Linked DNA regions of Homo sapiens. The protein of the gene in region 2 interacts with the protein of the main gene of each other region in a pairwise test. Each region holds a gene or a part of one and is shown on either strand. Other genes may lie near its edges. The genes, in order: WSB2, CSF3R and WSB1.

What was found.
Region 1: the proteins of CSF3R (region 2) and WSB2 interact in a protein complementation assay, tested with the Homo sapiens proteins (one study listed by BioGRID).
Region 3: the proteins of CSF3R (region 2) and WSB1 interact in a protein complementation assay, tested with the Homo sapiens proteins (one study listed by BioGRID).

Annotation. Positions count from the first base shown.
Region 1 is NC_000012.12:118,048,327-118,060,149, reverse strand, and holds part of WSB2 (WD repeat and SOCS box-containing protein 2), read left to right. Parts: intron 1-7,671; coding exon 7,672-7,840; intron 7,841-11,823. UniProt on the Homo sapiens protein: May be a substrate-recognition component of a SCF-like ECS (Elongin-Cullin-SOCS-box protein) E3 ubiquitin ligase complex which mediates the ubiquitination and subsequent proteasomal degradation of target proteins.
Region 2 is NC_000001.11:36,472,152-36,482,184, reverse strand, and holds part of CSF3R (granulocyte colony-stimulating factor receptor isoform a precursor), read left to right. Parts: intron 1-647; 5' UTR 648-707; intron 708-2,104; exon of another isoform or gene 2,105-2,198; intron 2,199-2,668; 5' UTR 2,669-2,688; coding exon 2,689-2,752; intron 2,753-6,511; coding exon 6,512-6,808; intron 6,809-8,297; coding exon 8,298-8,421; intron 8,422-8,562; coding exon 8,563-8,750; intron 8,751-9,498; coding exon 9,499-9,668; intron 9,669-9,793; coding exon 9,794-9,947; intron 9,948-10,033. UniProt on the Homo sapiens protein: Receptor for granulocyte colony-stimulating factor (CSF3), essential for granulocytic maturation. Plays a crucial role in the proliferation, differentiation and survival of cells along the neutrophilic lineage.
Region 3 is NC_000017.11:27,308,685-27,318,820, forward strand, and holds the end of WSB1 (WD repeat and SOCS box-containing protein 1), read left to right. Parts: exon of another isoform or gene 1-415; coding exon 416-588; intron 589-1,376; coding exon 1,377-1,490; intron 1,491-2,824; coding exon 2,825-2,932; intron 2,933-3,525; coding exon 3,526-3,685; 3' UTR 3,686-7,242; downstream 7,243-10,136. UniProt on the Homo sapiens protein: Probable substrate-recognition component of a SCF-like ECS (Elongin-Cullin-SOCS-box protein) E3 ubiquitin ligase complex which mediates the ubiquitination and subsequent proteasomal degradation of target proteins.

The DNA.
Region 1 (11,823 bases), on a different chromosome or scaffold from region 2:
GGAACCCCACTTGGGATAGATTTAGAATTGATTCCGGGAGTCCCAGGTCTTGAAGGACCCGAGTTTAAATGTAATTTCCTTAGGAGAAATTTTCAGAGCAGGTTCAAGGCCTAGGGCTCAGAATTTGTTCCAGAACTTCATGGTAATCTTGCAGCCAAGTTCAAGCTTCATCCTGGTCTGGAGGGTTCTGATTGCTGATGGCTTGTTACTGTGGGTGGGAAGGTTGAAATCTGGGTATTCCCTGGGGTGGTGTTACTTTTTAATTTAGGAAATGACATTTCTTTGTTTGCTGAAGTCAGGCATTGAGTTAAAGGCAGCTCTCTCTCCTTCCCATCTAGATAAGGGCTTTCTTTTCAGTGAGTGTTACCCGTAGAATTCTTTTTAAAAGGGCCCCTACTGTTTGTGTAGATCCTATGTGAATCTTTTTATAGCTTCCGTTTGATTTCCATTGCCTCCTTACAGTTCAATCTGAAAGCAATCTGTAGCTAGCCTGCCTTTTTAACAGAAATCTGTTTCCAGTTCTGGGGTTTTCCTAAAGATTGACAACTTCGTTTTGAGGGTGTGGGCAGGGTTGTTGAGAGCTGCCAAGTTACTGTACAAAAAAGGCCAGAGTTTTAACTTATTTTCAAATGGAATAAAGCCCATTGTAAAGGAAATACAATGGGCAACAGTTGAAATCTTCAGAGCAATGGTTAGACTTCACTTATTCATTCAGCAAATATTTGTTGAACGTCTACTATGTGCCAGGCACCCTCTAGGCCAGCCCCGACCAACAGAAGTCTAATGTGAGCCACGTATGTAATTTAAAATGTTCAAGTAGCCACATTAAAAAAAAGAAAAAAGAACTAGGTGACAATTTAAAAACTCTTTCAATACAACATGTCTAAAATATTCCTGCTACATGTAATCAAATAAATTGTAATGTAATGTTTTAGATTTTTTTTTGTGCTAAGTGTTCAAAACGTGTTGTGTATTTTTTACTTACAGCCCATCTGAATTCTGACTTGCCACATTTCAAGTGGTTGGTAACCACATGTGATTTCCCTATTAGACAGTGTAGCCCAATAGCAGTGAACTGGCAAGTTTGGGTGGGTTCAGAAAGAGACAGACAATAAATACGTAAAAATGACAGGCAATCAAGAAAATATCAACCAAATGCGCCGGGGTGGCTCACGTCTGTAATCTCAGCACTTTGGGAGGCTGAGGCGGGCAGATCACTTGAGGCCAGGAGTTCGAGACCAGCCTCACCAACATAATGAAACTCCGTCTCTACTAAAAATACAAAATTAACCAGGCGTGGTGGTGCATACCTGTAATCCCAGCTACTCAGGAGGCTGAGGCAGGAGAACCGCTTGAACTGGAGAGGTGGAGGTTGCAGTGAACCAAGATCTCGCCATTGCACTCCAGCCTGGGCAACAAGAGTGAAACTCCATCTCAAAAAAAAAAAAAGAAGAAGAAAATATCTAAGTGATGGTTATAAAGAAAATCAAATGGTTAAAGGAAAGTGAATGGTGCCAGGCGCAGTGGCCCAGCAGTTTGGGAGGCCAACTTGGGTAGATCACTTGAGCTCAGGAGTTTGAGACCAGTCTAGGCAGCATGGCAAAACCCCATCTCTGCAAAAAATACCGAACTATAGGCGCGTGCATGGTAGAATGTGCCTGTAGTCCCAGCTACTGGGGAGGCTGAGATGGGAGGATCATCTGAGCCTGGGGAGGTCGAGGTTGCAGTGAGCCGTGATGGTGCTACTGCATTCCAGCCTGGGCAACAGAGCAAGACCCTGTCTCAAAAAAAATAAAAAATAAAAAAGGAAAGTGTATGGTCGCTTTAGATAGTGAGGCCAGGATGGTCTCTGAGAAGGTGACATGAGGACCAATCCCTGAATGATAAGATGGAGCAACTGAGGAAAGCTTTTGAGGCCGGTGGAATATCTAATGTACATGTCCTGATACAGGAAAAATCACCTAGCTTCCTGCTGGCTGGGGTCATAGCTTTCATCTCTGTGTTAAGGCTAACTGCTTTGCCTAGAAGAGGCTTATAATATATACCTTTCCATTCAGCCTGATTGTCCAAACACATCCCATTGTTTAATTAGAACACCCTGATCCAGGGCCAGGTGCAATGGCTCATGCCTGCAGGAGAATCGCTTGAGCTCAGGAGATCAAAACCAGCTTGGTCAACATAGCCAGACCCCCATCTCTACTAAAAATTTAATTTAAAAAAAAAAAAAATGCTGAGTGTGGTGGTACGCCCCCGTAGCCCGATACACAGGAGGCTGAGGCGGGAGGATCACTTGAATCTGGGTGGGAGATTGAGGCTGCAGTGAGCTGTGATTCAGCCACTGCACCCCAGCCTGGGTCTCAAAAAAAAAAAAAACCCAAATATATATATGAATATGATATACTTGAAATTTGCTAAGAGTAGATTTTAAGTGTTCTCACCACACAAAAATAAGTATGTGAGGTAATGCATATATGGTAATGAGCTTGACTGAGCCATTCCACAATGTATACATATATCAAAACATGTTATATTCCATAATATATACAATTTTTATTTATCAGTTTAAAAAAGAAGAGGCTGGACGCGGTGACTCACGCCTGCAATCCCAGCACTTTGGGAGGCCGAGGTGGGCAGATCACCTGAGGTCAGGAGTTCGAGACCAGCCTGGCCAAAATGGTGAAACCCCATCTCTACTAAAAATACAAAAATTAGCCAGGTGTGGTGGCGCATGCCTGTAATTCTAGCTACTCGGGAGGCTGAGGCAGGAGAATCACTTGAACCCAGGGGGCGGAGGTTGCAATGAGCCGAGATGGCGCCACTGCACTCCAGCCTGGGCAGCAGAGTGAGACTCTGTCTCAAAAAAAAAAGGAGAAAACAAAGAAACCCTGATTCATAGGCCTTTTCACCAAGAAGGATCTACAAGTACCATACCAGTTGAAGCTAGATACCCCACCCCCAGCTCTGTTTTTGTTTGTTTGTTTTGTTTTTAAGTTCTGCACTAATTAGGGCTTTCTCTCCGTGTAGCCAAGTTTAGTTTGGGCCCAGACTCCAAGAGACAGGAGTCACTGGGTTTGTTCTTCTTTTAGCTCCTGGATTCCTGAACCTGAAATAGCAAGAGATTAAATCCCTAAATCACAGAAATAGAGTGTGAATTCTGAGTAGGGCTTGTGTTTAAGAAGCATTTCATGTGAAATGTTTGGCATAAGCATCATCAGAGTTTAAGGGGCTTTATTTATTTTTTATTTTTTGGGGACAGAGTCTTGCTCTGTCACCCAGGCTGGAGTACAGTGGTGCAATCTTGGCTCACTGCAACCTGCACCTCCCGGGTTCAAGTGATTCTCCTGCCTCAGCCTCCCGAGTAGCTGCGACTACAGGCGCCCGCCACTATGCCCGGCTAATTTTTGTATTTTAAGTAGAGACGGGGTTTCACCACGTTGGCCAGGCTGGTCTTGAACTCCTGGCCCCAAGTGACCTGCCTGCCTCGGCCTCCCAAAGTGTTGGGATTACAAGCATGAGCTACCATGCCTGGCCAGCTTTATGTTACTTTTTTGTTTAAAGAGTTATACCATATGTATTTATTAGACAAATATTTACTCACTGCCTGCCCTCCACCAGGAACTCTGCCAGCTCTGGGGATAAATATACAAAGTTCTTGCTCCCTGGAGTTGATATCCTAGTGGAGGGGAGACAGATGGCGATCAAATGGTGATAGAGCTGTAAAGAAAATAAAGTGAGGGGTTGTGAAGGAGATTGACTAGGGGTCAGAAGAGTTCTCTAAGCAGTTGTCATTTGAGCCAGACCTGAATAAGAGTAGATGCCAGCCGAGGAGAGGCATTCCAGGTGAAGGGCATGGTTGGTGCAAAGGCCTAGGGTCAGAACTAATTGAGCATTGGCAGAGGGTAGAGAGAAGGGCAATGTGTTGGAGCCAGGGGCAGGGAGAGAAGTACAAGCCCAGGGAAGTTCAGATTATGCTGGATTTTGAGGGCAGGGTGAGGAGCTAGAGTTTTATTCTAACAGTGTTTGAAACTGACCACTCTGGAGGCAAGGAGAACCGATGGTGCGGGGCTAGAGGGGAAGCCGGGAGAGCAGCTGGAAGGTTGCCTACTGGGCCAGGCGGGAGATGATGCTGCATAGATGAGAGTAGAGATGGAGAGGGGTTAGATTTGGCAAGTCTTTTGTAAACAGACTTGATAGAACTTGCTAATGGATTTGGTTTGGGAGATTTAAAAAAAAAAAAACAGACGTGGTGGTTTACACCTGTAATCCCAGCACTTTGGGAGTCCGAGGTGGGCGGATTGCTTCAGTCTAGGAGTTTGAGACCAGCCTGGCCAAGATAGCAAAAACCTGTCTCTACTAAAAATACAAAAATTAGCTGGGTGTGGTGGTGCACGCCTGTAATCCCAGCTTCTTGGAAGGCTGAGGCATAAGAATTTCTTGAACCCAGGAGGCCGAGGTTGCAGTGAGCCGAGATTGTGCCATTGCAGTCCAGCCTGGGTGACAGAGTGAGACTCCATCTCAAAAAAAAAAAAAAAAAAAAAAAAAGGATAATGTAGAGGAAGTGAACCAATTGTGAATGTTATCAGGATGGAAAAAAAAAAGACATTTTCATCCTGGTCATTTGATCCGGAATTCCTGGTCTCAAGCAATTCTTCCACCTCTGCCTCCCAGAGCACTGGGATTACAGGCATGAGCCACTACCCCAGGCCATCCAGGTCATTTGAAAATGTTTCTCTAGATCAGTCAATGTCATTTAATACTTGACTGCATCTGGGTTTCTCAGCCTTGGCATTGTTGACATTTTGGGCCAGATGATTCTTTGCTGGGGGCTGTCCTGTGCGCTGTAGAGTGTTGAGCAGCATCCCTGGCCTCCACCCACTAGATGGCAGTAGTAGCAACTCCAGTTGTGACAACCAAAAATGTTACTGCCAAATGTCCTTAAGGGGCAAACTAGCCCCCAGTTGAGAACCCTGGGTCTATAGAAATAGCTATACACATGTGATTGTATAAATGAAACTGTCACACATACAAACATACAGATTTCTAGGAGGATTTACCTGGGTCTATACAAATAGCTATTTACTCAGACCATATATATAAAAATATATTTCTTTCTTTTTTCTTTTTTTTTTTTTTTAAAGAGATGGAGTCTTACCATGTTGACCAGGCTGGTCTTGAACTCCTGGCCTCAAGCTATCATCCCATCTCGGCCTACCAAAGTGCTAGGATTATAGGCGTGAGCCACCGTGCCTGGCCTAGACCTAATACATTAAACCCAAATTTACACATAGAACCTCTGAGAATGAATAGTCTCTTTACAAAGGCTTGATATGATTTATTAACATTCTATTTAAAGACAGAAACTTCAGGAACACACACCTATTTTATATAACAAGATATACCTATGTTATTATTTTCCTATAAATGCATATACTAGAATTATTATTATTATTATTATTATTATTATTATTTTTTGAGACAGAGTTTCACTCTTGTTGCCCAGGCTGGAGTGCAATGACACCATCTCAGCTCACCGCAACCTCTGCCTTCCGCCTCCCGGGTTCAAGCGATTCTCCTGCCTCAGCCCTCTGAGTAGCTGGGATTACAGGCATGCGCCACCAAGCCCGGCTTATTTTGTATTTTTAGTAGAGATGGGGTTTCTCCATGTTGGTCAGGCTGGTCTCGAACTCCCGACCTCAGGTGATCTGCCCGCCTTGGCCTCACAAAGTGCTGGGATTACAGGCATGAGCCAATTTTTTTTTGAGACAGAGTCTCGCTCTGTCACCCAGGCTGGAGTGCAGTGGCACGATCTCGGCTCACTGTAACCTCCGCCTCCTGGGTTCAAGTGCTTCTCCTGCTTCAGCTTCCCGAGTAGCTGGGACTGCAGGTGCCCGCCACCATGTCTGGCTAATTTTTTTTTTTTTTTTTTTTTTTTGGATTTTTAGTAGAGACATGGTTTCACCATGTTTGCCAGGCTGGTCTTAAACTCCTGTCCTCAAGTGATCTGCCTGCCTTGGCCTCCCAAAGTGCTGGGATTACAGATGTGAGCCACTGCACCTGGCAAAAATATTTTATAAATATACACATATGCATCTCTACCATCTGTTTTATTGAATCCAAGATACCATGGATTGTATTATCATCATGTATAACTGAGAAAAAAATACTACCTATTTAACTATGAAAAGTCATTGATTATAAGATACATCCTGATTTCAGCGAGGTCAAAATGTAAGATATATAAAGATGTGTCTTAAAATATATGAAATACGGGTTTTAAAAATGAATATCTATCTGGTAACAGCCAGGGTCAAAGTCTTCCACATTCCACATTCCTTGTGTGGAATGGACACATCAGGAAGTGACCTTATTCAGGATGGAAGCCAGTTTTTATATTAGTAAGTATCACAGTCATAATGGTCAAAAAATTCATTCTGAAGGCCTTTAACTTATAAGCTTCATCAGCCATGAGAATCTTCCATCAGAGTAGAGAACTGAACTAGGAACTGTGGGTCAGTCAATGAAGAAGCTCCAATCTGGTGCCTACTCTTTCACAAGATGGTGTGCTAGGTCCTGGGAGAAACAAAGACAAAATGATCTGGGTGTTGGAACAAGGTGCTTAGACACTGATGACGAGGGCGGGGGGCAGAGAGAAATTGGTTACATAAGAGAGAATGAAATAAACAAGGTGCGACTTATTTCCGTTTTGATAGTGTGAGATCAGGGTACGCTTCTTAGTTGTGAATCTAGGTGGGATTATTACTTTTTTCTTTCTTTCTTGTTACTTTGAGAAGCTAGGGATTCTCATAAGCAAAAGTGGGTCCAGGTGTGAACGTAAATAAGCCCCTTGCATGTCAAGGAGATTTTGTGGCCAGAGTGTGGCCTGCAGGGAGGGGACAAGGGAAGGAGGTTGGACCGATGGGCTGGGGCAGATGGCATGTGGTGAAAGTCCTGGTCTCAGTTGCCTTTATGATGTAGGCAGGCGGGAGCTTTCTAATGTATTTGAAAGAAATGATGTGATGTGTGGGTATTTCAGCTTTAGCAGCATCTCTAGGGGTAGGAAGACTGATCAGGAGACTGTAGCAAAAGATCTGGGTGAGATGAGATGAAGGTTTAACCCCAGACAGAGGACGTGGAAGCGGGAGAGATGGGGAGATGGAATCCATACTTCTGAGTGTGAGGAAGCAGGGCAAGGGCTGAACGTTTTTAGCCTTGATGATGGGGAGGATGCAGGCGAGTGAGAGGGAGCCTTTGAGTTTCACATATTCCTTCTTTGACAGCAGCAGGTTCTTCTGAAGAAACCTGAAATGCATTGGAAGGCCTTGCTATTTTGGCCCCATAATCAGCACCGTCTAGCATATTCCTGGTCTGGCTGTCTCTCCACTTTCCTCCCCTTCAAGTATTCATAGGAAAATGAGGCCTCCATTCACTGGGTTCATGGGCACAAAGGTTACTGTGAGTCATGGTTAACCAGCAGTGAGGAGTGCCAGGATTGAGTAACCGTGGTGGAATGTGGCCTGTGGCTGCTGTTATTGCCCTGGGTCATTTAAGTGACAACTCCCTCTGGGAATGGATAGTGTGGCTCTTTGCCACAGGGAGACAGTGGCTTTCCTGTGTCTGGGTGGTCAGGGAGCAAGGGGGTGTGTGTTTGAAGCATGTTGTCTCCTGCCCCAGAGGAACCGCTGCTGCTGGCCGAACTCAAGCCCGGGCGCCCCCACCAGTTTGATTGGAAGTCCAGCTGTGAAACCTGGAGCGTCGCCTTCTCCCCAGATGGCTCCTGGTTTGCTTGGTCTCAAGGACACTGCATCGTCAAACTGATCCCCTGGCCGTTGGAGGAGCAGTTGTAAGTATTCTCGTACTGGGGCCCCATCCGGCGCATTTCCAAACACTCCTTGTTCTTTTGCCATCTCTGTGCCCAAGAACCAGAGAGAGGGAAGGTGGCTCATGGTTCAGGAATTGATCATGGGGGTTTCCAGAGCCCCAAGTTCTGTATATGTGAAAGTCAATTCTGTCAAGATTATGTTAGCCCCAAGTTGGCTTTTTTTCCCATAGCTTTATTGAGATGTAATTTATATACCACACAGTTTGTCCATTTAAGTATACAATACAGTGGCTTTTAGTCTATCCACAGAGTTGTGCATCCATCACCATCATCAGTCTTACTTTATTTATTTATTTTTTGAGACAGTCTCCCTCTGTCTCCTAGGCTGGAGTGCAATGGCGCAATCTTGGCTCACTACAACCTCTGCCTCCTGGGTTCAAGCGATTCTCCTGCCTCAGCCTCCTGAGTAGCTGGGATTACAGGCACACACCACCACGCCTGGCTAAGTTTTGTATTATTAGTAGAGACGAGGTTTCGCCATGTTGGCCAGGCTGGTCTCAAACTCCTGACCTCAAGTGATTCACCCACCTCGGCCTCCCGAAGTGCTGGGATTACACATTTCTCCCATGAGCCACTGTGCCTGGCACATAATCAATTTTAGAATATCTTTATTTCCTCAGAAAGAAACCCTGTACCCCTTAATTTAGATCCCCCAACCCCCCTGCACTCTCCAGGCAACCACTAATCTACTTTGTCTCTCTAGATTGGCCTATTCTAGACATTTCCTATTAATGGAGTCATACAACACGTAGCCTTTTTTGACTAGCTCCTTTCATTTTACATAATGTTTTCACAGTTCATCCGTATTCTAGCATATACTAGTATTTCATTTCCTTTTATTGCATCATATGGAGATGCCAAATTTTGTTCGTACATTTATCAGTTGATGGACATTGGGTTGTTTTCATGTTTTGGTTATTACAAATAGTGCTGCTATGAACATTTATAGAAAACCTGTGTTTTCTATGTTTAACTATTTGAGGAGGTGTCAGACTGTTTTCCAGAGTGGCTGCACCATTTTACTTTCCCACCAGCAGTGGATTCAGGTTCCAGATTCTCTACATCCAGCCGTTGTTATTGTCTGTCTTTTTTTATTATCCTAGCAGGCAGCCATCCTAGTGGTATGAAGTGGCATTTCATAGTGGTTTCGATTTGCATTTCCTTGATGGCTATGGATGTCAAGCGTCTTTTCTTTCTTTCTTTTTTTTTTTCTTTTTTTGAGACAGAGTCTCACTCTGTTGTTCAGGCTGGAGTACAGTGGCATGATCTCAGCTTATTGCAACCTCCACCTCCTGGGTTCAAGCAATTCTCCTGCCTCAGCCTCCCAAGTAGCTGGGACTACAGGCACATACCACCACGCCTAGATAATTTTTGTATTTTTAGTAGAGACGAGATTTCACTATGTTGGCCAGGCTGGTCTCAAACTCCTGACCTCAGGTGATCCACCTGCCTTGGCCTCCCAAAGTGTTGGGATTACAGGTGTGAGCCACCACACCTGGCCGAGCATCTTTTCAGGTGCTTACTGGTCCTTTGTATACGTTCTTTGGATAAATGTCTACTCAGAGCCTTTGCTCGTTTTTGTCTTTTTATTATCAACCAAGTTTATTTTATTCATTTATTTTTTTTGAGAGAGAGAGAGGGTCTTGCTCTGTTGTCCAGGCTTGAGTGCAGTAGCTCAGTCACGGCTCACTGCAGCCTCAACCTGCTGGTCTCAAGCTATCCTCCTGCCCTAGCCTCCCAAGTACCTGATACTACAGGCGCGCCACCATGCCCAGCCAACTTTTAAATTTTTTGTAGAGACAGGGTCTTGCCTAGGCTGGTCTTGAACTCCTGGCCTCAAGAAATCCTCCCGCCTCAGCCTCCCAAGTAGCTGGGATTACAGGTGTGAGCCATGGCGCTTGGCCAAGTTTAGTTTCTAATACCAGTTTTTCTTTCTTTGGGATGGACAAGCCCCAGTGTCAGAATGCCGTGAGCTCCCATTCAGATGGCCCAGCATCTGTATGTTTTCATTTGTCCCAGGGCAACTCTATGTCTGTATTTATTCATTCAGCCAGCCTTGGTTGCGTAGTTTCTTTTTTTTTCTTTTGAGATGGAGTCTCGCTCTGTCGCCCGGGCTGGAGTGCGATGGTGCGATCTCGGCTCACTGCAACCTCCACTTCCCTCCTGCCTCAGCCTCCTGAGTAGCTGGGATTACAGGCATGCGCCACCACCCCTAGCTAATTTTTTTGTATTTTTAGTAGAGATGGGGTTTTACTATGTTGGCCAGCCTTGGTTACATAGTTTCTTTGCGTAACACTGAGTTAGGGACTGAGAGTCGTTAGATAAATCAGACATGGCCCTTGCCCTTGAGGCTTTCATTTATTTTTCTTTAAGCATTTTTTATAAATAACATTAGATTTAAGGTTTTTATAAGTTGGATATGAAACTTGCCTTGATAAGAGGGAATGTTGACAGGAGTTTGTTGAGATGGGTACTCTGCATGCTGCTAGAGTTGAGGGGGATAAATTTGTGCAGTTTTTGGAAGGAAGCCTGGCAAAATGCATCAAGGACCTGAAAAATGTTCTTCTGGGCTGGGCGCGGTACCTGATGCCTGTAATCCCAGCACTTTGGGAGGCCGAGGCAGGCAGATCACTTGAGGTCAGGAGTTTGAGACTAGTCTGGCCAACATGGTGAAACCCTGTCTCTATTAAAAATACAAAAAGTTAGCCAGGTGTGGTGGTGTGCACCTGTAATCCCAGCTACTCAGGAGGCTGAGGTAGGAGAATCGCGTGAACCTGGGAGGCGGAGGTTGCAGTGAGCTGAGATCGCGCCACTGCACTCCAGCCTGGGTAACAGAGCGAGATTCCATCTCAAAAAAAAAAAAATCTCAGAAATGGTGTCATCTATTTATATACACTGATCTTCATCATGAAATTAGTTGCATGTTAAGAAAATTGGAAACAGTTTGAAATCCAGGGATGAGAGGATGGTTACGAAAATTTTACCATTTCCATATGATATTTTTGCAGCCATCAAATTTTGTTATGTGTTTTTAATCAGAGTTTTCAGTTTCTTCTGTGGTCAGTTTAATGATAATGCCAAGGTCATACATTGTTTACTAATTCCCTACCTGAAATACAAGGGATGCACCTTCATTTCTAGACTTGACATGTAAGTAAATTTACTATATGAATTATAAATTCTATAGTCTGCTCTTTTTAAAAAGCACAACATGGAAGATCTGTCAGTTTCCTGAAAATCACTCTTGTTTTCAAATTTGTATAGATAAATATGTCTTTTTTCTGTCACATGACCTAGAGCTGCTCCCGGGTAGAAGGAAGGGCCTGGGCTTGCATCTCCCTAAGGGCACTGTGGGTGGCTCAGGGTCTAGTGTGGAGCATGTGTCGGTTGGGGAAAGCTCCTTTACTTTAATTACTGGTATCAGTAAATGAAAACAATAACAATTTTTTTTTCTGAATCCTATTTCTGAACAAACCATAAATTTAAATCCTATTTCTGAACAAAACATAAATTTGTATAGATGAATATATCTTTTCACTATTAGCTAAGGAAAATGAAAAAAGGTATTTGAGTATTAACCATTTTTTTTCATATTTATTATTTAACATAATGAGCAAAGTGTTATTGTTTCATATGTTAAGTGAGAAGTTACTGGTTTTGGAGAAAAATCACATTTTTTTTTTTTTTTGAGAGAGTCTTGCTCTGTCATCCAGGCCAGAGTGTAGTGGCGCATCTCGGCTCACTTTAACCTCTGCCTCCTGGATTCAAGTGGTCCTCCTGCTTCAGCCTCCTAACTGGGATTACAGGCGTGTGCCACCACACTCAGCTAATTTTTTTGTATTTTTAGAAGAGACAAGTTTTCACCATGTTGCCCAGGCCAGTCTTTGACTCCTGGCCTCAAGGGATCTACCTGCCTTGGCCTCCCAAAGTGCTGGGATTACAGG
Region 2 (10,033 bases):
GCCTCACTCTGTCACTCTTCCTGTTGCTCTCTCTTTTTCTTTATCTGCAGCATATCTGGAAATGCCTCTCCCCTCTGTTTATTCCCAGCCCCCTCCTCCCTCCCCACCCTTCCCACAGAAAGAATCTCGAGGTGAGAGTAGAAACAGCAAGGGAGCGAGGGGTGTGAAGTGGGGAAGAGAGTGTGAGGGGAGAGGGCTGAGCGTGATGAGGGAGAAACAGAAAGAGGGAATGTGAAGGCAGCCAGCCCAGGAGACATCGAGCTGTGCTGGGCCACAGGAGTGAGCACCTGCAGAGCCCAGCAGAGATGGCCGCAGTGACAGGAGGGCCAGGGGGCCCAGGAGTTAGGAGGAGAGGATCCAGAAAGGGGGCTTTGGAACTGCGCAGTGTGGCACAGACAAAAGCAAGGTGGCAGTCCTGGGAGGTGTGACCACACAGGCTGTGAGGGAGGCAGGGGTGAGGGGAAAACTGAACTGTGCTGGATTCTGTGAGCTGCTGACCTGCTATTTATGGCTCGTGAAAATAACCTATGGTTGCTGAGTGCCAACTCCATGCAAGGCACAGGGCTAAATGCCTTTACCAAAATAATCTCATTTCATCCTCACAACAACGCTGAGGAGTGAGTGCTAATGTTATTTCTTTCCCACAGATGGGGAAACTGAGGCTCGGCTCGGAAAGGTGAAGTAACTTGTCCAAGATCACAAAGCTGGTAAGTGGCGGAGCTGGAGATCAAGTCAGGTGACCTGAATCTGAGCTGGGCTCCAAACCTCTCTGCATATCGGCCCCCCAGAGAGTGAGACCATGCTCCAACAGGTCCTAGGCCCACTTAACCAGGCTGGGGGACGTCCAGGGCTGCAGTGGAGGACCAGAGACTGAGGCCAAGCAGGCCAACACCCAGCACCCAGGGGAAGGATGCCGGGGCCTCTTGGGGTTAGGTTGTCTACTCTGGACAGGAGCCAGTGGAGGCGGATAGGGTGGTACTGCACGGGGCATAGGCTGGGCCTGAAGCTGACCCTGGCTAGGGCAACAGGGCTGGGATAGGATCAAAAGCACATGGAGATGAAAACCAGTGTCCCAAAATCTGGGCCTTGGAGGCTAAATCTTCCCCAACCAGTGTTGCGGGGGGATAATCAAACTGGTATGCTATAGTAAGAAGGTTACCAACCACCGATGGGTAGACAGATGCTCGGGATACTTGTACAGGTTTCTCACTGCACAAAACTGAGGAGTAACTGGAGCCGAAATCCAGGCTGTTCCCTAGTTGCCAGGTCCTAGTGTGGTGCTGCATCCATCCAGAGGAAGGGGTGCTTTCTTTCTGATTTGCACAAAGGAGACTTACGGGCTAGCAGTCACTGGGTATTCCGATACTGCAATATATACATGGATAGACTGGGGGTTTGGGTAAGACCCCTGTGAGCAGTAACAACCTTGGGTATCTGGGCAGTTCTTATCCACACCTCTGTCTGGGAGGAAGAGAAAAGGATTCTCCTACCTTTCTCCCTGCTGAGCACGAGGGATCTGCTGGGACACCACCTGCGTGTATGTGTCCAGATATGTACGTGCAAGCTGACCAGCGATTCCCACTGATCTGCCACCAAGAGCACCAACTCGTGCTGGAGGATCAGGTGTTGGCTCCAAGACCCCAATGGGAGCAGGGTGAAGATGAGGCTGGACACCCACCCAAGTGGTAGAAACCTCTGCATACTTCCTAAGACTGGAGCCAAGGCACCCTCCATCCAGGTGCTATGGCCGTGACCTCATGATGCCTGACCCCAGAAGGCCACCAGAGGTCTGTGCCCAAAATTGGGGGCACACTGGACCCTTCGGGTGCCCCACTTGATATTCTCTCAGCCCACATGGCTGAGGCAGCCAGCTTCCTGCAGGCATAACCTGACAGCCCCTTGCCTCAGCTGCTCCATAGAGTTCTCCCTTTCTTCCAGGGAGTGTCCCTGACAACACTGGCATGGCTTCCCCAGGAGAACCTGCCTAGTACTCATGCATGCCCAACCTGGATGTGCCAGGGAATGAACACCCCAAGAGGCATCCCTTGACCAATGGGGGGCAGGAGTCAGTGGGTAAATCTTTCCATCTTCCCTCCCATCCAAGGGATAAATTGACCCTCCAGTGGACAGCTCTGAGAAGTGTTCTACATGGCTCTTTGGAAGGTTCCAGCAGGATAGAGCCCCAGTTGTCCATAGAGGTGACCAACATGATGATGTAACTTTGTGCTGGCTTTCTCTCCTTCCCTGTTTCATTCTCCCCAGTCCCTTATCTGCTGCTAGGATCTTCTCAAAATAAACTACCAGCATGCAATTCCTCATCTCAGGTTCTGCTCTCTAGGGGTAGCCTAGCTTAGATAGCTGGGAAGGCGGAAGAATGCTCTTCCTCACTGCTCCTTTCCCTGCTCTTTCCTGGAAGGCAAGTATAATAACTGTGGCTGTCACTGTCATTTCCTATGTTCCAGGCACTGTGAAAAGCCCTTGACTTGCATCATTTTGTGTCTTCCTCTCAAAGTCCCATGCAGTATAGGCTGCTGTTACTTCCATTTTGCAAAGAAACGAAGGCTCAGAGAAGTCAAGCAACCTAGTCAAAGCTGCACAGTGACAGACAAGGATTAAGATCAGCTCTGACTCCAAAGCCCATGGTCTTAAACAACCCTTCTGCCTACAGGTGAACATCAAGTTGGTGCTATGGCAAGGCTGGGAAACTGCAGCCTGACTTGGGCTGCCCTGATCATCCTGCTGCTCCCCGGAAGTGAGTATGGCCAAGGATGAGGGTGCAGTGGGGAGGGGAAGCTACAAGGAGAGATATTGGGAATTTCCTTGCACTGCCACATGGCTCCTGGGATTCCCAGAGAATCCCACAAGATTCAAGTCTGAGCCACAGATGTGGGGTAGCTGGTCTCCCACCCACAGACTTCCACAGGCAAACCACCACCCAAGAGGAATGGTGAGACGACCCGGGCTGGTCATCCTGGAAAAGGCCAGTGAGGCGCAGATCTTGTCCGCAAATCTCTACCAAGCTGTCAGAAGCAACCCATGGGTCCTATGCAGCCTTGGTGGGCAGCAAAGGGATCAGGATGGAAGCTACAAGGGGACAGGTTTCATCCTGAAATAAAGAAGCCCAGGCAGAGCTTGGTTTCCAACCATGGAAACTCTGTCTTGAGAGGTAGAGAACTTCCCATCCCCAGGGGTATGCAAGCTAAAGCCAGGATTGATAAAGATGCTGTGCAGCAGGGGTTGGCAAACTTTTTCTGACAGTAATGTTTAGGCTTTGCAGGCCACATACTGTCTCTGTTCCTTGTTTGTTTGTTTGTTTGTTTGTTTGTTCGTTTGTGAGACAGGGTCTCCCTCTGTTGCCCAGGCTGGAGTGCAGTGGCACAATCGCAGCTCACTGCAGCCTCAACCTCCTGGGCTCAAGTGATCCTCCCGCCTCAGCCTCCAAGGTAGTGCAGGGCATGCCACCACACCCAGCTAATTTTTTTTTGTTGTTGTATTTTTTTGTAGAGATGTAGTTTTGCCATGTTGCCCAGGCTGGTCTCAAACTCCTGGGTTCCAGCAATCCACCTGCCCTGACCTCCCAAAGTATGGGGATTACAAGCATGACCCGCCACGCCCTGCCTATTGCATGTTTTTTGGTTTTTGTTTTTTTGTTTTTTGAGATGGAGTCTCACTCTCTTGCCCAGGCTGAAGTACAGTAGCGGGATCTCAGCTCACTGCAACCTCCGCCTGCCGGGTTCAAGCGATTCTCCTGCCTCAGCCTCCCGAATAGCTGGGATTACAGGCACCTGCCACCAGGCCCTGCAAATTTTTGTATTTTTACTAGAGATGGGGTTTCACCATGTTGGCCAGGCTGGTCTCAAACTCCTGACGTCAGGTGATCCACTCACCTCGGCCTCCCAAAGTGCTGGGATTACAGGCATGAACCACCGCGCCCAGCCCTGTGGCATGTTTTTATTTGGTTTTTGCTTTGCTTGTTTTTAACTCTTTTAAAATGTAAGAAACATCTTTAGTTGTTAGGCTATACAAAAATAGGCCACTCAAGCCCTGCTGTAGAGGGCAGAGCATCAGGTAGAGTTTTGAAGCAAACAACCTTGTAAAGTTTCTTCCAGCCTGAAATCCTGAGTCTGGGCCGGGCGCGGTGGCTCACGCCTGTAATCCCAGCACTTTGGGAGGCCTAGGCGGGTGGATCACAAGGTCAGGAGATCGAGACCATCCTGGTGAACACAGTGAAACCCTGTATCTACTAAAAATACAAAAAATTAGCCGGGCATGGTGCCGGGTGCCTGTAGTCCTAGCTACTCGGGAGGCTGAGGCAGGACAATGGCGTGAGCCCAGCAGGCGGCGCTTGCAGTAAGCCGAGATCACGCCACTGCACTCCAGCCTGGGCAGCAGAGTGACTCCGTCTCAAAAAAAAAAAAGAAATCCTGAGCCTGTGAAGCAGTAGAAGCCCTTTGTTGAGAATCATGAACTTGCTCTGTGACCCTGGGCAAACTGCTTCTCCTCTTAGGGCCTTCGCATCCCCATCAGTAAAACGGGCCTAAGAACACCTGAGAGAGGACAGAAAGCATTGCGGGCAAAGTGTATGTTGATTTGTTTGTTTATTTATTTATCAAAAAAAATTCATCGGCCGGGCGCAGTGGCTCATGCCTGTCATCCTAGCACTTTGGGAGGCTGAGGCGGGTGGATCACGAGGTCAGGAGATCGAGACCAGCCTGCCAGCATGGTGAAAACCCATCTCTACTAAAAATACAAAAAAAAATTAGCCGGGCATGGTGGTGCGTGCCTGTAGCCCCAGCTTTTCGGGAGGCTGAGGCAGGAGAATCGCTTGAACCTGGGAGGCGGAGGTTGCAGTGAGCCGAGATTGTGCCACAGCACTCCAGCCTGGGTGACAGAGCGAAACTCCTTCTCAAAATAATAATAATAATAAATATTCACCAAGGTCCTACTCTGTACTAGGCACTGGGAATACAGTAATAAGCAAACAGCCAAGGTCTGCTGGCCTCACAGAATTTATAGTCTAGCTGGAGTGATAGATAAGTAAATAATCATAAGACTCTATAATTATGAAGGATAATAAGAGCTTTGAGGAAGTACAGGGACCTTGGCCTCCTCCAGTTCGTTAGTGCCTGGTCTGGTTTCTTCAAGATGCCTAAGCGTTAACCAGGTGAAACAGGGGTGGGAGAGAGAAAGAAGAGTCCCTCCAAAAAGAACAGCATGCCGGGCACAGTGGTTCACATCTGTAGTCCCAGCACTTTGGGAGGCTGAAGCAGGAGGATTGCTTGAGCCCAGGAGCTCAAGATTAGCCTAGGCAACATAGTGAAACCCCATCTCTACCAAAAAAAAAAAAAATCAAAAAATTAGCAAGGTGTGCTGGCATGAACCTGTAGTCCCAGCTACTCAGGAGGCTGAGGTGGGAAGATCACTTGAGCCTAGGAGGTCAAGGGTGCACTGAGCCGTGATCGTGCCACTGCACTCCAGCCTGAGTGACAGAGCAAGAACTTGAAGAAAAAAAAGAAAAGAAAAAGAAAACCAAAACAAAACAACAACAACAAAAAAAAAAAAACAGCAGGGACAAAGATCCAGAGATTAGAAAGATTTTGGAGTTTTCAAAGAATAGCAAGAATGAGCCAGAATAGCTGGAGCTGAGAGACCGGTATAAGCTGGAACTGAGAGGGTCAGGCAGGGGCCAGGCCACAGGAGCTATTGAAGGATTTGAGTGTTTATCCTAATGATGGCAGCAAATACTCACATGCCAGACACTGCTCTAAATGCCTTCCATATGTTATCGCATGTAATCCTTCCAGCAACACTAAGGTAGGGACGATTTTTATCCCCATTTTACAGATGAGAAAACTGAGGCACAGGAAGTCTTAGAAATATACCAGGATCATGTAATTAATAAGCAATAGAACCAGAATTTAAACCTAGGCAGTCTAGTTCCAACATCCACACTCATCCATCACACCACACTGCCTTTCAGAGCAATAATGTGCCATTGAAGTGCTGCGATGGAGATGGGGTAGCAGAATCAGATTTGAATTGTGAAAAGATTGCTGTGGCTATGGGTTCTTATCACTCTAATCACTGCTTGCACCATCCTTGGGGAGGGCACTGGGGAGTTAACAGTCTCCATCTGGTGGTGTGCTGGTGCTGGCTTGCAAAAACTAATTGTGCACATCTCTTCCCAACTCCCCGATCAATGATGTCACATCAATAGGCTGAAATCAGCTACAGTGAGAGCACTTACACCGCGGAAAGGCACACACTACAAACCAGGGTCTGCTTTTCTCTGCCAAGCTGGCTGATAAACGGTTACCAGCACATCACTATCTCTGTGTCACCCCCGTAGCCTCTCGAAGTCTCCGTCCCCATCCTTCCATTTCCAGCCCCCATATCTTGAAGGGTGAGACAGGAAGGTGAGGCCTCTGAGTCTAGGAGTACAAAGGCCTAGATTATAGCCCAGCTCTGCTAGGCAGAGGCGTCGTTCCTGGCCCATTCTCTTCCACCCCAGGTCTGGAGGAGTGCGGGCACATCAGTGTCTCAGCCCCCATCGTCCACCTGGGGGATCCCATCACAGCCTCCTGCATCATCAAGCAGAACTGCAGCCATCTGGACCCGGAGCCACAGATTCTGTGGAGACTGGGAGCAGAGCTTCAGCCCGGGGGCAGGCAGCAGCGTCTGTCTGATGGGACCCAGGAATCTATCATCACCCTGCCCCACCTCAACCACACTCAGGCCTTTCTCTCCTGCTGCCTGAACTGGGGCAACAGCCTGCAGATCCTGGACCAGGTTGAGCTGCGCGCAGGCTGTAAGTCCTTCCAGCCATCCAACTACTCTGCCTCCAACACCCTCCTGCCAATACTAATAAGAATATTACCAGCCGGGCACGTTGGCTCACGCCTGTATTCCCAGCACTTTGGGAGGCCGAGGCAGGCGGATCACCTGAGGTCAGGAGTTCATGATCAGCCTGGCCAGCAAGGCGAAACCCCGCCTCTACTAAAAATACAAAAAAATTAGCCAGGCATAGTGGCGGGTGCCTGTAATCCCAGCTACTCGGGGGGCTGAGGCAGGAGAACTGCTCGAACCCAGGAAGCGGAGGTTGCAATGAGCTGAGATCACACCACTGCACTCCAGCCTGGGCAACAAAAGCGAAACTTGGTCTCAAAAAAAAGAAGAAAAAAAAAAAAGAGTACTACCTATTGAGCTCTTATCTAATAAGCACTTTATGGGCATGATATCAGGTAACAGTAGTACCAGTTGGTACTACTATGTAGCCTCACTTTGCAGATGATGAAACTGAGGTTCAGGGAGGGTAAGTGACTTGCCCTTATCACACATTAATAAGGATGGAGGCAGTGTGGCTCTAAAGCCAGTGTTGTGACCACTACTCTACATAGCCCAAGTCCTCAGCCATCTGAGGGTGTCTCCAGGGAGAACATCCTCTACCAGCTGGGCTTGTCCCCCACCCCAGTTTCAAACTTCCTTTCAAACTGAGCAGGATGGAGTTTGTGCCAAGCTGAGGCATAAGGAAAAAACAAAGACCGAGGTTCTTGTTTAAGAATCAGTAATGGGCCAGGTGCAGTGGCTCACACCTGTAATCCCAGCACTTTGGGAGCCTGAGGTAGGTGGATCATTTGAGGTCAGGAGTTTGAGAACAGCCTGGCCAACATGGGGAAACCCCGTCTCTACTAAAAATACAAAAATTAGCCGAGTGAGCCGAGATCACGCCACTGCACTCCAGCCTGGGCCACAGAGTGAGACTCTGTCTCAAAAAAAAAAAAAAAAAAAAAAAAAGCACCAGTAATGGCCACTGCTAACACTTACATAGCATTTCCTGTAAGTTAGGCACTGTTCTGAGCACTTCATGTAGAGTGAGTCATTTAGCCCTTGTGATAACGCTAGGGGGTGGGATTTTACCATTATCCCCATTTTACAGATGAGGATGCTGAGGCATGGAGCAGTTAAATAACTTCAAGATCACAGGGCTAATGAATGGCAGGACCAGGATGAAAACTCAAACACTACACTGTCACTGACAAAGGGTCTAGAGTTGGGGGCCTTGGAAGTGGGCCACCACTGGGCTGCTGGGAGTCTGTGATGCTTGCCCCGGTGCATGCCTGCAACTTAGCTTCCCCCAGGGCTGCCCTTCCAGAGCCACTCTGCCTGGAGACAGGGGGACAGACAAGGTGACAACAGAGGAACCAAGCCAGGGCAAGGCAACAGGGCCAGCTGGTCCCAGAGGAAGCTTTCTGAGTGGTCCCACCCAAAGCCCTCACACTCTTCCCACCCACATGCAGACCCTCCAGCCATACCCCACAACCTCTCCTGCCTCATGAACCTCACAACCAGCAGCCTCATCTGCCAGTGGGAGCCAGGACCTGAGACCCACCTACCCACCAGCTTCACTCTGAAGAGTTTCAAGTGAGGAGGGGCCCCCACCTTGGTCCCCTCCCTTTGGATTCTGGGGTAGGGCATGGGTAGGATGCTGGGCATGCCTCTGGGAGGGAGAAGGGAGCCTCGCTTTCTTCCTCTGCTTGGCACCCAAGCCTGGACTATTGGCAGGAGCCGGGGCAACTGTCAGACCCAAGGGGACTCCATCCTGGACTGCGTGCCCAAGGACGGGCAGAGCCACTGCTGCATCCCACGCAAACACCTGCTGTTGTACCAGAATATGGGCATCTGGGTGCAGGCAGAGAATGCGCTGGGGACCAGCATGTCCCCACAACTGTGTCTTGATCCCATGGATGTTGGTGGGTGATGCAGGGGAGGGAGGGGATCCCCAAAATGGGCAGACACTGAGAGGAATGGAGAGGGAAACACAGAACTAGCGACAGACAAGAAGACACTGGAAGACCTAGAGACAGAGGCACAGAAGAGGGACAGAGACAAAGAAAGGTGCAGCTGGAGACAGAGAAATGGGGACACAGACCCAGAGACAGGAAGAGACACAGAGGCAAAGAGACACATTCAGTCATGCTTTCAGCGTGTTTCCTAAAGCACCCACTACATGTTAGGCACTGCTCTAGGTACTGGGGATACAAAGCATCAAAAATGCCCTCAGAATGTTAGATTCAAGTGGGGGGGAAAATAAGATAGAATTTCAGATAGCAATAAGCAGAAAGGAGAAATTAAAGGAGGAGAAGGGCATAGAGAGAGAGGGGGGAAGGGGAGCACTGGCTATTTTAATATGCTGGTCAAGAAAGGCCTCACTAAGAGGGTGACAATTGAGCAGATCCTTGAAGGAAATGAGGGAGCAAGCCGCTGGATATCTGGAGGGAAAACATTTCAAGCAGAAGTAACAACCAGTGCAAAGGCCCTGGGGCAAGAGCGGAAACAGAGACCTAGAGAGAAACAAAGACACATAGAGATCGAACCACAGAAACGTGTCATTGGCAACGTGGACAGATGGTGAACCACAGACAGGGAGACAAGAGGGAGCTAAGGCAGAGCCCTCTAGGGTGGGATAGGGAGACCTTCTGACAGCCCCACTCCTTGCAGTGAAACTGGAGCCCCCCATGCTGCGGACCATGGACCCCAGCCCTGAAGCGGCCCCTCCCCAGGCAGGCTGCCTACAGCTGTGCTGGGAGCCATGGCAGCCAGGCCTGCACATAAATCAGAAGTGTGAGCTGCGCCACAAGCCGCAGCGTGGAGAAGCCAGCTGGGCACTGGTGAGGCAGAGGGCAACCTGGAGAGCCTGAGGTGGTGGGGGCAGGGGGCAGGGTAAGTCGGGCTCGAGCTGGCCCTAGAATGGCCCAGCGATCCAAGGCTCAGAGTCCTGTCCACCCCTCACCAGGTGGGCCCCCTCCCCTTGGAGGCCCTTCAGTATGAGCTCTGCGGGCTCCTCCCAGCCACGGCCTACACCCTGCAGATACGCTGCATCCGCTGGCCCCTGCCTGGCCACTGGAGCGACTGGAGCCCCAGCCTGGAGCTGAGAACTACCGAACGGGGTAAGGAGGTGATGAGAGGCTGGGAGCAGCCAACAGTATCCAGTCCAGGCCCCAGGCCCCTCCCCAACTGGCACCCCCTCTTCTTG
Region 3 (10,136 bases), on a different chromosome or scaffold from region 2:
TTACGTTTTCTGTCTGTATATTTTTTTAAAAATCTGGTAGTTTCTGGAAAAAAAAGAGAAGGGGGTTTGTAGTACTTAACCCTATTTATTTCCGTATATTTTAGTTAATTAGTTTTTGGAATAAATGGATTTCAGTATAGCTTTGTGGTTAAATTGCATTGCCTTTATTTTATGTTTAGGCTTATTTTTAAATTAACATTTAACAGAAACATTTGAAATAGAATTTGCATGTCTGCCTTAATTAACTTAAAGACTGATTTTAATCTGACTATGACACTGAGCATATTCTTTAAATTACTCATAATTTATAATGCTTAATATAATCTTAATTAAATTTAGCAGTTTTAGTATAAGATGTGCCATTTTGTCCTCTGTATGTCTGAATGAAGCTATAACATTTGCCTTTTTATTGCAGGTTTTCCTTTGGAATATGGATAAATACACCATGATACGGAAACTAGAAGGACATCACCATGATGTGGTAGCTTGTGACTTTTCTCCTGATGGAGCATTACTGGCTACTGCATCTTATGATACTCGAGTATATATCTGGGATCCACATAATGGAGACATTCTGATGGAATTTGGGTGGGTACAGCATGAATTATTTTAGTCTATAATTCATCTCCACCTATCAAGTTATGTGAATAATTACAATCACCAATATATGCAACCTAAAATTACAGTCTATTCTAATTTAAAATGTTGGTATTATTTAAGCCCTTGACTAATGGAAAGCCTTCGATATAAATTCTAAAAGTAAATTTGGCTCTCTTGATACAAGTCTTGCTACTTAACAGTACCCAGCTCTCTATAGAAGTACTAATTATGTTTAGAGTTTTTGTTGGAGAAAAACAGTTAAAACCAAAGTTGGACTTAATCTTACTGTCTTAAATCATAAAAGATTTTTTTTTTTTTTGACAGAGTCTTGCTCTGTCGCCAGGCTGGAGTGCAGTGGCGCAATCTCAGCTCACTGCAACCTCCACCTCCTGGGTTCAAGCAGTTCTCCTGCCTCAGCCTCCTGAGTAGCTGGGCTTACAGGCACCTGCAACCACCCCTGGCTAATTTTTGTATTTTTAGTAGAGATGGGGTTTCACCATGTTGGTCAGGCTGGTCTCAATCTCTTGATCTCGTGATCCACCTGCCTTAACCTCCCAAAGTGCTGGGATTACAGGCATGAGCCACTGCGCCCGACCATAAAAGATTAGTTCTTTTCAGGTGACTTTAATTTGGATGTATCATCTCTACTGAGTCTTCTCAGTTATATTAATTAAGGCTACTTTAAACACTATTCAAAGACAGATGTACTTTGTACCTGGGTAATTTTGTTTTCTTGAAGTGACTGATATCCACTGAAAACATATATTTGACCTCAGGCACCTGTTTCCCCCACCTACTCCAATATTTGCTGGAGGAGCAAATGACCGGTGGGTACGATCTGTATCTTTTAGCCATGATGGACTGCATGTTGCAAGCCTTGCTGATGATAAGTAAGTATGTGCATTATAGCTTGACTGACTTACTATTACCTTTTACATTCTTAAGCCTTAAAGCCTTTCTGCAGTTAAGAGTTTTAATGTCTCTTCCTCAACACAAGCCCCTGGGAGATTTTGTTGTGTCTTAAAGAATATCGGCCTGAACAATTATCTGTGTAAACTAAAGATAATGCATGCCTCTCCCTGTGTTCCTTGTTTAACTTGTTTAGGCATAGTGGGTTGATTTTTAGTCAGCTTTTAGCCCAGCTTACAGAGATTTTTTAAAGTAATGTCTTAACAAAGGTTGAAGCAGAAGGAAATTTCTAAAGTGAAACAAATAGTAAAACCAAAAGAATTACAAATAAATAGTAATTTGTATCCACCATGATTGAGATTAGAATATGAAATGTCACATGAATGATATGTGCTGCTTGTTGGTAAGAAGCAGAAACTAGTTGCAACCATCTGTGTTCATGCATATAGCATTGAGTAGTTCGGTGACGTCAATTCATAAGGCAGCTCTTCTCTTCCCAGAATGTTAGCAAACATATGGAGAGAGGTTTTTTTTGTTTGTTTGTCTGCAACCATTGTTTCCTGTTTGCTCAGATAGATTCTGCATGTTAGTTCTCTGCTGTATTTGTAGACACACTCAGCCTGGGTGAAAAGCTTTTTTTCCTTTCCTGGTTTTTTTTGTTTGTTTATTGGAGACAGGGTCTTGCTTTGTTGCCCAGGCTATAGTGCAGTGGTGCAATCACATCTCACCACAGCCTTGATTTTCTGGGCTCAGGTGATCCTCCCACCTCAGCCTTCCGAGTATCTCACACCACAGGGGTATACCACCACACCTGGCTAGTTTTTTTAAAAAATTTTTTGTAGAGACAGGGTCTCCCTATGTTGCCCAGGCTGGTCTTAAAAGTCCTGGGCTCAAGCAGTCCACCCACCTCGGCCTCCCAAAGTGGTGGGATTATGGTTGTGAGCTACCAGGCCCACCTAGCTTTTAAAAATGTCTTGGGAAAAGGGTGAAACAGACTAGAAGTTGATTGTATTGTAAGTGTAGGAAAGTAAGGAGAAAGTTTCCGGGTGTGAACATTCTAGGTTTGAACACTGGGAAGGAGGGAAGGCAGCCATGCATTGTAGTCTCTTAAGTGAAAGTTTATCCAATTTACCAACTGATATTATAGACCTTAAAATATTTTGTAATTGTATAAAGCAAGTTATTATAATTGCCTGTTGGTGTGATGTGTGTATTTTGTGACTCATAACTCAATGGCATTTCTTTCTAAATTTTAAAAAAGTTGCTTTTACCTTACATTTTCTACAAGATACTAAATAATTTATTTCATTTTCAGAATGGTGAGGTTCTGGAGAATTGATGAGGATTATCCAGTGCAAGTTGCACCTTTGAGCAATGGTCTTTGCTGTGCCTTCTCTACTGATGGCAGTGTTTTAGCTGCTGGGTAAATATATTTTTCTCTTTTTTTTTTTTTTTTTTTTTTTTTTGAGATGTAGTCTCCCAGGCTGGAGTACAGTGGTGCAATCTCTGCTCACTGTAGCCTCCGTCTTCCAGTTCAAGGAGATTCTCCTGCCTCAGCCTCCCGAGTAGCTGGGACTACAGGTGCACACCACCAGTCCTGGCTAATTTATTTGTTTGTTCGTTTTTCCAGTAGGGTCGGGATTTCACCATGTTCGCCTGGCTGGTCTCAAACTCCTGACCCTGACCTCAAGTGATCTTCCCGCCTCAACTTCCCAAAGTGCTGGGATTACAGGCGTGAGCCACCACACCTGGCCCATTTTTCTCTTTTCTTTAAGGGCCAATTTAAGGGGGCTTTTAGCAGCTAGTAATTTATTGTCAGTAAAACTCTAATAAGTGTTCTTCATAGTAGTGTTACCTTGTCATGGAATACATCATTGGTTAGTTCTTCCTGGTTGGGTTTTAATGTGAAGTTTGTGACTCCACTACTCACATGTATTGGGTGATAGTTGTTTGAGCTGTAGCAACACTGAAATACATATACTTGGGTGACTAAGCATGTGCTTTGTTTCTGTTTAGGACACATGACGGAAGTGTGTATTTTTGGGCCACTCCACGGCAGGTCCCTAGCCTGCAACATTTATGTCGCATGTCAATCCGAAGAGTGATGCCCACCCAAGAAGTTCAGGAGCTGCCGATTCCTTCCAAGCTTTTGGAGTTTCTCTCGTATCGTATTTAGAAGATTCTGCCTTCCCTAGTAGTAGGGACTGACAGAATACACTTAACACAAACCTCAAGCTTTACTGACTTCAATTATCTGTTTTTAAAGACGTAGAAGATTTATTTAATTTGATATGTTCTTGTACTGCATTTTGATCAGTTGAGCTTTTAAAATATTATTTATAGACAATAGAAGTATTTCTGAACATATCAAATATAAATTTTTTTAAAGATCTAACTGTGAAAACATACATACCTGTACATATTTAGATATAAGCTGCTATATGTTGAATGGACCCTTTTGCTTTTCTGATTTTTAGTTCTGACATGTATATATTGCTTCAGTAGAGCCACAATATGTATCTTTGCTGTAAAGTGCAAGGAAATTTTAAATTCTGGGACACTGAGTTAGATGGTAAATACTGACTTACGAAAGTTGAATTGGGTGAGGCGGGCAAATCACCTGAGGTCAGCAGTTTGAGACTAGCCTGGCAAACATGATGAAACCCTGTCTCTACTAAAAATACAAAAAAAAAAAAAATTAGCCAGGCGTGGTGGTGCACACCTGTAGTCCTAGCTACTTGGGAGGCTGAGGCAGGAGAATTGCTTGAACCCAGGAGGTGGAGGTTGCAGTAAGCCAAGATCACACCACTGCACTCCAACCTGGACAACAGAGCGAGACTCCATCTCAAAAAAAAAAAAAAATTGTGTTGCCTCATACGAAATGTATTTGGTTTTGTTGGAGAGTGTCAGACTGATCTGGAAGTGAAACACAGTTTATGTACAGGGAAAAGGATTTTATTATCCTTAGGAATGTCATCCAAGACGTAGAGCTTGAATGTGACGTTATTTAAAAACAACAACAAAGAAGGCAGAGCCAGGATATAACTAGAAAAAGGATGTCTTTTTTTTTTTTTTTACTCCCCCTCTAAACACTGCTGCTGCCTTAATTTTAGAAAGCAGCTTACTAGTTTACCCTTGTGGTATAAAGTATTATAAATTGTTGTGAATTTGAAGAATCCGTCTACTGTATTATTGCTAAATATTTTGTTTATACTAAGGGACAATTATTTTAAGACCATGGATTTAAAAAAAAAAAAAAAAACTCTGTTTCTGCAGGGGATGATATTGGTGAGTTGCCAAAGAAGCAATACAGCATATCTGCTTTTGCCTTCTGTTGTTTATCTTACCTGCAGATATTAAGAATGTATGCATTATGTAAAATGCTCAATTATATATTTTTGTTGAGTTTTTTAATTAAAGACTTGTAAAAAAAAAAAACAGTATATTGCAAATGTTTCTTAAATAGGTTAGGTGGAGTACTTTCTCTCTGTCTCCATTGTAAGGTTGATGGTACACCACAGGCAAATTAAGCAAAAAGGACAATGAAGAAAGAATGCAGGACTCAGGCGCTGCTCTAGAATTCATTCAGGGCTCCCCGAGTGCAGCAGCTCTTATGGTGGTTTTGTTTTTAGGAGAACTGTTGTAATAATGCATATTTTAAAAGCATAGGGAAGCTCTAGAACACAGGAAGGTGACTACTAAGCAAGAGAAAAGTATCTTTTAGTGGGGAACTACCAGCCTATAGTAAGTCTATCTGGTTAAAGTAGTTATTATGAAAATCTAGCAGTCTGGGTCCTTTGAGAAGGCATTAAAAAAGCAAAACTCTTATGAGCCATGTGTGATTTTGAAGACTCATTTCCACTGAGAAATTATTTGGAAGTTCCTATGGTTAGCTCTGTTAAGGAATGTAAAAATTTATAGGGGGTGTAGGGTTATCAATTTGAAAGCCAGTAGAAAATCTGCTCAAGTTACTTCTTGAGGATCATCTGTATTTTACAAAAAGAAGCACAAGAAGCATCTAATCTTTATACTTCTTGTGACTTTTTTTCCCCTGCATTTTACTTTGTAATATATCGGCTTTATAATTTTAAAATACACTGGCCGGGCGCAGTGGCCCACACCTATAATCCCAGCACTTTGGGAGGCCAAGGCAGGTGGGTCACTTAAGGCCGGGAGTTCATGACAAGCCTGACCAACATAGTGAAACCCCTGTCTCTACTAAAATTACAAAAATTAGCTGGGCATGGTGGTGGGTTCCTGTACTCCTAGCTACTTAGGAGGCTGAGGCAAGAGAATTGCTTGAACTGGAGAAATGGAGGTTGCAGTGAGCTGAGATCACGCAACTGCACTCCAGCCTGGGTGACAGAGTAAGACTCTAAATAAATAAGATACCATTACTTTTCATATCATTGCATTATTTTTGCTTTCCACACCAACATATCCAGTCAAGTAAAAACAGCTTTTTTTATTTTTTATTTTTTATTTTTTTTGAGACGGAGTCTCACACTGTCACCTGGGCTGGAGTGCAGTGGTGCGATCTTGGCTCACTGCAGCCTCCACCTCCTGGGTTCAAGCAATTCTCCTGCCTCAGCCTCCCAAGCAGCTGGGATTACAGGCGCTCCCCCACCACGCCCAGCTAATTTTTGTTGTATTTTTAGGACAGACGGCGTTTCACTGTTGGCCAGACTGGTCTCAAACTCCTGACCTCGTGATCCGCCCGCCTCGGCCTCCCAGAGTGCTGGGATTATAGGTGTGAGCCACCGAACCTGGCCCAAAACAGCATTTTTGGAAGCTACATTCTGTGAGATGTTCACCTGTTTGCCACCTCTTCTCGTGAAAACCATAGTGAGTGCCAGTGTGAAAGGAAGATTGCAGCGTATATGTCAAGTAGAAACATGTTTGAATTTTCCATTTGTCTGTGGGGAAGAAGGTAATAACAGTAATAACAGACTGAAGGACCAAAGGAAAATAGGGAAGACGTTGATTATGGACTTGGATCAGATTCTAGCTACATGATTTGAAAATGACACTGCCTCTCCTATTTTGCCACAAGCCTGTCATTTGGAGAACTGGCAGATCATTTATGTTCAGATTTAATTTTCTGTTTTAGAATCCCATGGAGTACATGTGAACATAGGAAAATCACACTCAGCAGCCAAGCTATCCTTTTGCGATAATGAAATCACTTTAAAACCTATAACTTGATCTTAGGTTGGCAAATCTTAAACTTAACGATCCTTGAAATTTCCTGCCTGCTGTGACTGTGATGCAGTTGGATTCAACTGGTTTACACTGCTCTTGGGTCGGCAAGACCAAAAAAGGTTGGACTGCACTGTAGCATGCTTATGGGTTGAGGCAGTGGCAGAGGCAGAGGACTTGGCCGTCAGCCAGCCAGCACAGGCGTAAGAAAATAGCATGAGAAGTTTCACGAGCCTGAAACCATTGAGACAGTGATTACAACCTCCATATTAATCAGATGAGGGTTTGTAGGTGACATAGCATTTTACCCAAGTAATTCTGAACAGACTGTGGCTTATGATAATACATTTTAACTAGCAAGTGTGTGGACTATAAAACAAATATCTAGAGTTATATATGGATGTACTATCATTTGGTGATAAAAGCATAGAAAAAGCATAAGTTGGAGTATACTGGGTTTTTTTGTTGTTGTTAAATTCTTTTCCATCAGAAGTAAGAGCTGTTGGCAGCAACTAATAAAATGCAACCTAGTGACATGCTCGTCATAACCTTGGCAGATGTTTATGGTAAGATGCTTGGAAGGAATGAACGTAAGTAGGCAATCTCAACCTGCCCTTTGATCCATAAAGCATTCTTTAGCCACCAGCAAAAATCTGGTCTGAGCCAGGTATAAAGTGACCTGTTTTATTACAGGTGGGTGGGGTAGCTTTGTGTGGTTGTTTTTTGACATTATGTATGCTTTTATTTTTTACTTTGAGGTAGGATCTCGCTCTGTCACCCAAGCTGGAGTGCAGTGGTGCAATCTCAGCTCACTGCATACTCTGCCTCCCCTGGTTCAAGTGGTTCTCGTGCATAAGCCACCTGAGTAGCTGGGATTACAGGCGTGAGCTGGGCCAATTTTTGTATTTTTAGTAGAGATAGGGTTTCATCATGTTGGCCAGGCTCGTCTTGAACTCCTGGCCTCAAGTGATCTGCCCATCTTGGCCTCCCAAAGTGCTGGGATTACGGGCATGAGCCACAGTGCCTGACCAGTCTAGGCTTATCTTAACAGTTGAGGAATCAGAAAATGATTGAATAGGGCTGGAATTGGAGAAGGAAAAAATGATTTAATTCAATTTTTATCAACTCCAGCACTATTTTCTCTATTAGAGACTACTGTCATTATCCTTCTGGTTTCTGTTTTAAAGATACTGATTAAGGAATTTTCTTTATAGTTCCACATAACAGTTGGTCTTCTGGTCTGAAAGTAGTATTACAGGTTTTGTTAGGAAAACCTATAATACAGTGTTGCCTGTCACCGTCATTATAGTGAGTTTGTGTTTGTTTGGTTTTAAATAAGGCTGAAGCATCAATGGCTCTTTCTGAAAAAATTGTTCTCCAAAAGTAAAGTGTGAGCTATAGAAATCATCTAGAACAGGGGTGTCCAATCTTTTGGCTTCCTTGGGCTACATTGGAAGAATTGTCTTGGGCCACACATAAAATACACTAACTGATGAGCTTAAAAAAGAATTACAAAAACAATCTCATAATGTTATTAAGAAGGTTTACGAATTTGTGTTGGGCCACGTTCAAAGCCATCCTGGGCCACATGTGGCCCGTGGGCTACACGTTGGACAAACTTGCTCGAGTATAGATCAGTAAGTAAGAGAAATGAAATGGCTACTCCACTGGGTCGTTTTATGCTTCCGAATTGTTGAATAATAATGAAATGTTCTTATAAAAAATAGATTAAGGATGATGGGCATTAGAGAGATACCTGAGAAAGATAATGATTAAAATAGATCCAAGAGGCCAGGTGCAGTGGCCCTCGCCTGTAATCCCAGCACTTTGGGAGGCCAAGGCAGGCAGATCACCTGAGGTCAGGAGTTCGAGACCAGCCGGCTAACATGGTGAAACCCCGTTTCTACTAAAAATACAAAAAATTAACCCAGCATGGTGGCATGCGTCTGTAATCCCAGCTACTCAGGAGGCTGAGGCAGGACAATCGCCTGAACCCGGGAGGCGGAGGTTGCGGTGAGCCAAGATTGCACCATTGTACTCCAGCCTGGGCAACAAGAGTGAAACTCCATCTCAAAAAAAAAAAGCCAAGAATGAGGCTGATATTAAACAGAAATATATATATATATGTATATATATATATTTTTTGACACGGAGACTCGCTCTGTTGCCCAGACTGGAATGCAGTGGTGCAGGCTCAGCGCACCACAACCTCCGCCTCCCGGGTTCAAGAGATTCTCCTGTCTCAGCCTCCTGAGTAGCAGGGATTACAGGCCGTGCCACCACACCTGGGTTATTTATTTATTTATTTTGAGACGGAGTCTCTCCCTGTCACCAGGCTGGAGTGCAGTGGCACATTCTCGGCTCACTGCAACCTCTGCCTCCTGGGTTCAAGCGATTCTCCTGCCTCAGCCTCCCAAGTAGCTGGGACTACAGGTGCCTGCCACCATGCCCAGCTAATTTTTGTATTTTTAGCAGAGGTGGGGTTTCACCATGGTGGCCAGGATGGTCTCGATCTCTTGACCTCGTGATCTGCCTGCGTCGGCCTCCCAAAGTGCTGGGATTACAGGCGTGAGCCACCACGCCCGGCTGTATTTTTTTTTTTTTTAGTAGAGACAGGGTTCTGCCATGTTGGCCAGGCTGGTCTGGAATTCCTGACCTCAGGTGATCCACCCACCTCAGCCTCCCAAAGTGCTGGGATTACAGGCATGAGCCATCACGCCCTGCCTTAAATGGAAATCTTAAAAGACATACATTTGCACCAAGTGAGCTAAATATTTTGGCACCAAACTCACACAAAATGGCCGGGCACAGGGGCTCACACCTGTAATCCCAGCACTTTGGGAGACTCTGGTGGGCAGATCACTTGAGGTCAGGAGCTGGAGACCAGCCTGGCCAACATGGTGAAACCCCATCTCTACTAAAAATACTCCCCAAAAATTACCTGGGCGTGGTGGCTCATGCCTGTAAGTCCCAGCTACTCAGGAGGCTGAGGCAGGAGAATAGCTTGAACCTGGGAGGCAAAGTTGGCATTGATCCAAGATGGCGCCACTGCACTCCAGCCTGCATGACAGAACCAGACTCTGTGTCAAAAACAAACTCACACAAAATGGGAAACCCAGTAAGTTGTATGATTCACAATATTAATCTCACAGTAATGGCTGAGGAAAAGCACAGTTAATATTATGGACCGAATGTTGTATGCACACCCCACGACCACCACCACCACCACCAGTAATACGTTGAAATCCTAATCCTCAATGTAATGATATTAGGGAGTGGGGCCTTTGGGAGGTGATTAGGTCATGAGGGCGGAGTCCTCATAATGGGATTCGTGCCCGTGTGAAAGGAACCCTAGAAAGCTCTCATTCCCTCTCCACCATGTGAAGATACAATGAGAAGACAACAGTCTAACCGAGAAGAGGACCTGC